2 linked regions of the Homo sapiens genome follow. The protein of the gene in region 2 interacts with the protein of the main gene of each other region in a pairwise test. Each region holds a gene or a part of one and is shown on either strand. Other genes may lie near its edges.

Region 1 (3,422 bases), on a different chromosome or scaffold from region 2:
CACCTTACACTGGTGTGATGCCTGGAGCTGTGGTGGCCATCTTGCAACCATGAGGCCTGAAGTCCTGAATGGCCAGAGAGGAGAATATACACCAGAAAAAAAAAAACGGGGGGGTTTGTTACCATGGAAGGAGTGAGGAAGAGCTGCTAGGGAGGCAGCCAACACTCCCGGAGCACATGCAGCCCTTCTGTACCCGACCAGCCTGATGGTGTCTTCCATGAATGCAGTCCCCATCCCTCACTCCAGGAAACTGGGGAAGACAATTCAAGTGGCCTTGATCGTAGACAGTTCCCTTGGAAATAAAAGTACCAAGACAAAGCAGAGAAGTCGGAGAGCTTCAGGTTTGCAGTTTTATAGAAAAGATTTAAGAGGGTTAAAATATTCGTTAAAATGGCCCTCATTCTCCCGGGCCAAGGCTGTGTGGTCACACCTGAGAGCCTCAGCACTGCCCAGTACCCTCTCTCTCCTTGCGGAATTTTTAGTCCAACTGATCACAGAACCCACACCCTAAAAAATACAACAGCATTCTAATGGCATTCTAACGGCATTCTGATGGCATGCTAATGGCATTCTGTTTTGCTTTTTAGCCACCAACAACTCAACCTATTTTCAGAGCAGGTGAAAAACAATTCTGAATCCAGTTTGGAAAGATTCCGGCAACCAACACTTTATGTCAAAGCACAAGGAATGATGACAAAGACTCTGGCGATGGAAGATCAAAAACAGGCTTGTTTTATTTATACACAGAACAACTTATGTACAGCACTCAGGTATGGACTATGTACATGACAATACAAGAGGCGTTTGTTTCCACGGTGGTCACTATATAAATTAAGATTATAAATACGAGGGGGTAAGCCCCACCTGAGGGCACAGAACCTTTTCTCCAAGACTCTTCAGGGATCCTTCCTGCCTCTCTCTGCACAGCAGACCATGAGGCCCGTCTGGCAACACCACAAGGGGACCTGGGCCGGGGCAGCAGAGCAGCCCCCAGACAGCGAGGACACCCCAGTGCGGGACGCCAGCCCAGCACCAAAGGGCAGGTTCCTAAACACTCATGTTCATTCCTTCCTCACATTCTAACTTGTTAGAATTAGAAAAATGGTTTTTATGTAAACAGTGTTGTTCTAATCACTGACAACATATTAATTTTAAACACTTTTGATCCAAACCCAACTCCTTGCCAGGAGTAGGACACTGAGGACTTGGGGTGGCCCTGATGTCCTTGAAGCCACAGTCAGCTGTTTATCCTCCTCATGTCCCCTCCCCACCCAAGTTCCAGCTTGCCTGGGGCTTGTTCTGGGACCCTAAGAACCCCAGGATGCCCACATCGCCAGGCCAGCAGGGCCAATGGTCATGCAGGGACTGCGGGACAGGTTCCCATCATCTCCTGTGTTAGCCCATTCCACCTGGGAAACCAAGCGACTGCCGTGGCTGGCTTATTTCTCCCTCTGCCAACCCCCATCTACAATGTTCTGGGGAAAACAATGAGAGGTGGAAAAGGTAACATACAACCACCTTCCACCCACATCACTTCCAGTGAGGCAGCTAAGTCCACCAACAGAGCGTGGGAGAGTCTTTCATCCAAAAATCCCAACACGTCGCATGCAGCGACAGGAGGCTGTGCTGGGGAAACCCAAGGCCTGGCTCAGCCTCCATACTCTAAGGGCCTCGGGCCAGAACGACCACGAGAGGGGAGCACCCAAAGGCACGCAGAGGGGCCCACCTGGGTGCACTGCAGAGGGGACAGAGGGGCTGTGAGTGGGAGGTGGGCCAGTGCTGTTCACTGCCGCCTGCTCAGGACCAGGGGCTGCTGCAGACCCAGCCCGGTCTATGCCCACCCCCGCAGGTGCAGCCCAGCTTCTGCACATCAGATGGAGTGACGCTGACTAAAGGACCTGGACAGCGCCGGCAGATACTCCCAACACTGTCCTTCTCTTTGGGAGCCAAAGAGAAGCCACGGCAGATACTCCCAACACTGTCCTTCTCTTTGGGAGCCAAAGAGAAGCCACGGCCAGGCAGCCAGGCCAGAGCCATTTCCTCCTCACACCAGGGCAGGGGTTACAGAAACCTCTTCCCAAGACATTTACAAGCACCTCTGAGCCATGACTATCAACGGGAAAAAAGGGCAAAGTCAGTGCCCTGGAGGACCAGGGGCATCCTTCACCTGGGCACTGTCCCTACGGGGCACAGCCCTCTCCCCAGGCGAGCTCCCTGCCCTCTGGCACCATCATCTACTAGTTCAGAGCCAGGACAGAGGCAGGGCAGGGGCAGCGCGGACCACCAAATCAGAGTCCCTGCCAGCACCTCCAGCGACATCACGCCCAGCAGCAGGCGACAAGAAGCCACTGCAGGGGCAGACACTCAGGAGAGCCTCCGGCCTCCAGGCCACCGGACGGGCTGAAGAGGTCAAACCACCCCTGGCCCACCAGGGCCACGCTCCCTGGGAACCACAGAATGGGCAGAAAAAGTTTCCCAGAGCCAGGAAGCATTTCCCACACAGAAACACTCATGTGGACACACATCCTCTGTCTGCAGGGATGCAGCTGGCAAGCTGTCTCACTCACACCCCAAGCTGAACTCGCCTAGAGCGTCCGGAGACAGAAGGGCAGGCGTCCCCAGCCCACAGTGGGGGGAGGGAGGAGCGGGAGGAGAGAGGATGGAGGAGGGAGGAGCACAGGCCCTGTGACACCCAGGGAGGGGCTCCCCGCCTGGGAAACAGCACCCGCTGCCTTGGCTCACGCAGGAGGAATTTTTTTTTCTCTTCACGTCAAATTACAATCAACAAGACTGGAAACATCCATGCTACTTTCAAACCAGGAAAGAGCACGATTTTTGTTCAACAAAAGCTGCATCAACAAACAGGGGCCCTTGCAGGCTGCTGTGCTGGGCCCCAGCCACGTTTCTGAGAACTGGCTGGGGGCCAGGAGGCGGAGCCACACGGTGCGGCCACAGAAGGACACACGGAGAGGAGCCCCCGGGACAATCCAAGCACGAGGCCAGGCAAGCAGTGCCCAGGAGGCCAGACGCCGCTGGATTCCCTGGCCCACAGCACAGGCGGGCGAGAGCTGAGTGGCCGTGACACATGTGCCCCAGGTGACTCTGAGCTGGAGAAAGTGTTGTTTCAAAGGTAGCTGTGTTGTTATGTTCGAGACCCCAGAGCTCTGGTGGACGGTGTCACGGAGGCTTTCTGTAGCTGACAGAGGAAGTAGCACCATGAGAAGGGGGCGGGCTGCAGCATCTGCCCAGGGCCTCAGTGGCAGGAGGCGCAGAGGCCACAGGCTGAGAGGGCGGAGGCTAGGCCTCGGCGGCGGGGATGTGGAGGCCACAGGCTGAGAGGACAGAGGCTAGGCCTCGACGGCGGGGGCGCTGCGGCTCAGCTCCTTGATGCCACACAGGATCCTCTTCATGTGGCCCACCTT
Region 2 (3,917 bases):
CCGGGAGGCAGAGTTTGCAGTGAGCCGAGATCACACCACTGCACTCCAGCCTGGGCAAGAGAGTGAGACTGTGTCTCAAAAAAGAAAAAAAAAATTGTCAAACTACAAAGATCTGAAGTTATTTCCAAAACTCTACTTATTCTAACTGATAAATTATCCTTGACCTTTCTGTCCTCATCCAATTGGTCAATATATCCTGCTTAGAGTACCTTGTAAATATTTGTCACATTAGTTTTTTCATCATTCTCATTACCAATGCCTTAATTCAGACCCTCATCATTTCTCATGTGGATTACTTAACAGCTTTTAAGAAATCACACAGCACCCAACCTCAAATCCTTATTAATGGTCTTCCACCAAAGCTCCCACAGTGATCTTTCTAAACACTAAATTTCATTGTGTCACTCCACATATCAAATTTCCTTAAAGGTACTATTCTGTTCTTGCCTCGTCATGGAAATGCACCCAAAAATGATACCTGTGGTTCCAGCAACACATCACAAACATATGGGTCTTCATATATGCTGTTCCATTTGGTTACGATGTCCTCGCTAACTCCCATTTTGAATGCTAATTCCACTCTTCTTCAAGGCTCAAATTTCCAAGTCTTCTGGTAAACCATCTTAAGATACCGCAATCATTAGGTACAGCCTCCTACATGTGCTACCAAGACATTCTATATTGCTTTGGCACAGGCCTTAGCACGGTTTCCTCATGTGAAACCCTCAAAAGATCCTATAAGCTTCTCTAGCCATAAATGATTAGTCACCAGTCTCAAGGGCCCATTTCCCTGGCTGACCAGCAACCTCTAATTTTGGAAGTCAGGCTCGACCAAATGAGCTAGATCAATCAATCAGGTTCTCTCTATTGGGCTGGAAGGTGACTTACAGCAAGCTGTAAGCCAGATGATGAGTACATAATAGGTATGCAAAGAAATGGAGTAGATAGAAACAAACTGAACTGATAATAACCACTGCAGAGAAAGAAGCAGATAGTCATCTTGATTGCTGATACCCTTCTGGTTCCCAGTACTAGTTCCCATGAGGCCTGGCTGTACTACAATCTTTATTTTTCAACGCAGTGAAATCTTTCTTTTTAATAATAATGTCTCTTCTCGATGTACCTTGGGTAACACTGTTTCTGTCCTTTTTAACCAAAAACAATCTGTGATTATAATAACCTACTAAAGCCCTAGCAATTCCAACAGGAATAACTCTTTTGCCTCTGAAATCTTCAAGAGCCTGACAGTCATCTCTGAAGCAACATTTCCTAAACTGACGGATCCTTTTGTGAAGGAATGTAAATGTTAAGTAAGCACTACTGAAAACTAAAACCACATTTCCAAATACCCCTAGTTGAAATCTACTTCATTTCAAACTTAAAACATCCACAGGAATAGGAATTCTGAGTCTGGTTTGTAATGCAACTACATCTGAAGACATGCCACCAACATTTCAGAAGCCTGGGAACTGGTTAAAAAAATGTTGGTCTGTTCTGAACAGCATCATCATGGAAGTATGGATATTAGGTACGGCTACTCCACTGATTTAAGCAATTTTCTTTTCTTTTCTTTTCCTTTTTTTTTTGAGACAGAGTTTCACACTGTCACCCGAGCTGGAGTGCAATGGCGGGATCCCGGCTCACTGCAACCTCCGCCTCCCGGGTTCATGCGATTCTCCTGCCGCCTCCCAAGTAGCTGGGATAACAGGTGCACACCACCACACCCAGCTAATTTTTTGTATTTTTAGTAGAAACAAGATTTCACTATGTTGGCCAGACAGGTCTCGAACTCCTGACCTCGTGATCCGCCTGCCTCGGCTTCCCAAAGCGCTGGGATTACAGGCGTGGGCCACTGCACCCGGCCAATTTTCTTAATCTTCATTTCCAATTACCTTCCTTAAAATAAAGACCAACTTACATTTACTTTATAAAAATGCAAATATTTGAAAATTTCAGGCAAGGTAACACTATTTTATTTTGACCATTATAAACTAAAATTATTAGAGTAGCAAGCCAACAAACAGATAGCTCATCAAACAAATGTGTACTTGCTTGTGCCCAAGAGTTCAAGACCAGCCTGGGCAACAGAAGAAGACCTTGGGGGAAAAAAAAACACATAAAAAGGGATGACATATTCCATTTGGTCTAAATGTATGCATCTATAGAAACTAGCAGGCCAGGCACAGTGGCTCACATCTGTCACCCCAGCACTTTAGGATGCCAAAGCAGGCGGACTGCTTAAGCCCAGGAGTTTGAGTCCAGCCTGCGCAACATGGTGAAATCCTGTCTCTACTTAACTAAATAAATAAATAAAATTTTAGAAATAAATTTTAAGAAGAAAATAGCAGTACCCAAATTTAGCAGATTTTAGTTTGACCTCATTCGTTGACTTAAAGTTTTGGTTTTTTAAAATACAAAATCTTATCAATTTTTCAAAAAAAATTAAAACTTTTCAGTGGGTAGTACACGCAGAAACCAAAGAACCAACTTTTTGGGCATCAATTAAATTTCTTGGCCCTAACTGGTTATTTTGTCTTTTATTAAACATAATGATAGCACTATACAATATTTTTAAAACCAATGAGGTAATAATATGTCCAGTATTTTATCAGTACATTAATACACATCCTTTAGAGGACAGAGGACCTACCAAAAAAGATATGCCAAAACATGAGCGAAGCATACAGTATCATGTACAAAAATATTAGTTGGTGCATTATTTATAACAGGGTTTCTTCACTGGGCTTCAGTGGCCCTATGGATTAGCACAATTCATCCTGTTTAAGACTACTTATAAGTTGCTAACATTTACCCACTAAATGCCAACAGGCCCTCTAATCATTGTTGACAATCAAAAAGACACACCTCCCAATTTCTAGCTAAAATCCACTAATTTGTAATACCAAAAAAAGCAATCAAAATATCCAACAATAGAATTTCAAAAACACACAATACACTCAGAAATTACTAATCTCTAAATATTACTATAAATAAGACAGCAATATGGAAAATGCTTATGACAAAGTGAAAAAAGTAAAATAACAGTGTGATTCCTTTGATTACGCTATATTACATATATTACATAATGATAGCACTATACAATTATTTTTAAAACCAATGAGGTAATATGTCCAATATTTATTAACGCATGTGAAAAGGACTACAGGGAAATGGAGAGAAGCTTTGATAGAGTGGTGGGATCACAAGTGCTGTTTCCTTTTCTCTATTTTCTATAAAGTGGCTTTAGTGGTTACATTTTTTTTAACTAAATAAACTTAAGTAGTTGACAGATTTTTCCATTCTTTCTTAGAACTTTAGAAGACCAGAGAAGTGACGGAAATCAACAAGCAAAAAAAATCAACACAGGAAAAATGTCTAGTGTTACAAATCAGGGTAGGCTTACCCTTCAGGTTTTAGTTACTTGAAGGGGGTCACGGGGAACTTACAGGGTGCAGATAATCCTGACTGTGTGCTGGTTATATAGGTATGTTTACTTTGTAAAGATTCATCAACCTGCGCTTACGACCTGTGCACTTCTCTGTAGGTACATTAAACCTCAATGAAAAATTTACTGAAAAAACAACAAGGATTTCTTACTTGTGTAAGAAAGTTTCACAAGCTGTGAGATTGATTTATTGTGCAAAAAGTTAATAGTAATTCTACATATTTATCAACTGGCAGCACAAAAAAAGGATGACAAACTACAAATAAGAATTCTTAATGCTTACAGTGAATGTTCACAAGAATTCCCTAGCCTTAAAAAATTCTTAACGTTTAAAAGATAAAGATGAAACTCAACCACTGCATCATGCCAAAAGAATTAAATTTAAAATCTGAATTTTCATATTAGCAACTTAAGTCATTTAAGTCATTTTTTTTTAAGAGATAGGGGTCTCAATATGTTACTCAGGTTGGAA

What was found.
Region 1: the proteins of SREK1 (region 2) and DGKD interact in a two-hybrid assay, tested with the Homo sapiens proteins (one study listed by BioGRID).

The regions. Positions count from the first base shown.
Region 1 is NC_000002.12:233,469,386-233,472,807, reverse strand, and holds the end of DGKD (diacylglycerol kinase delta), read right to left. Parts: coding exon 3,348-3,422; coding exon of another isoform or gene 3,298-3,347; 3' UTR 710-3,297; downstream 1-709.
Region 2 is NC_000005.10:66,147,019-66,150,935, reverse strand, and holds part of SREK1 (splicing regulatory glutamine/lysine-rich protein 1), read right to left. Parts: intron 1-3,917. UniProt on the Homo sapiens protein: Participates in the regulation of alternative splicing by modulating the activity of other splice facors. Inhibits the splicing activity of SFRS1, SFRS2 and SFRS6. Augments the splicing activity of SFRS3.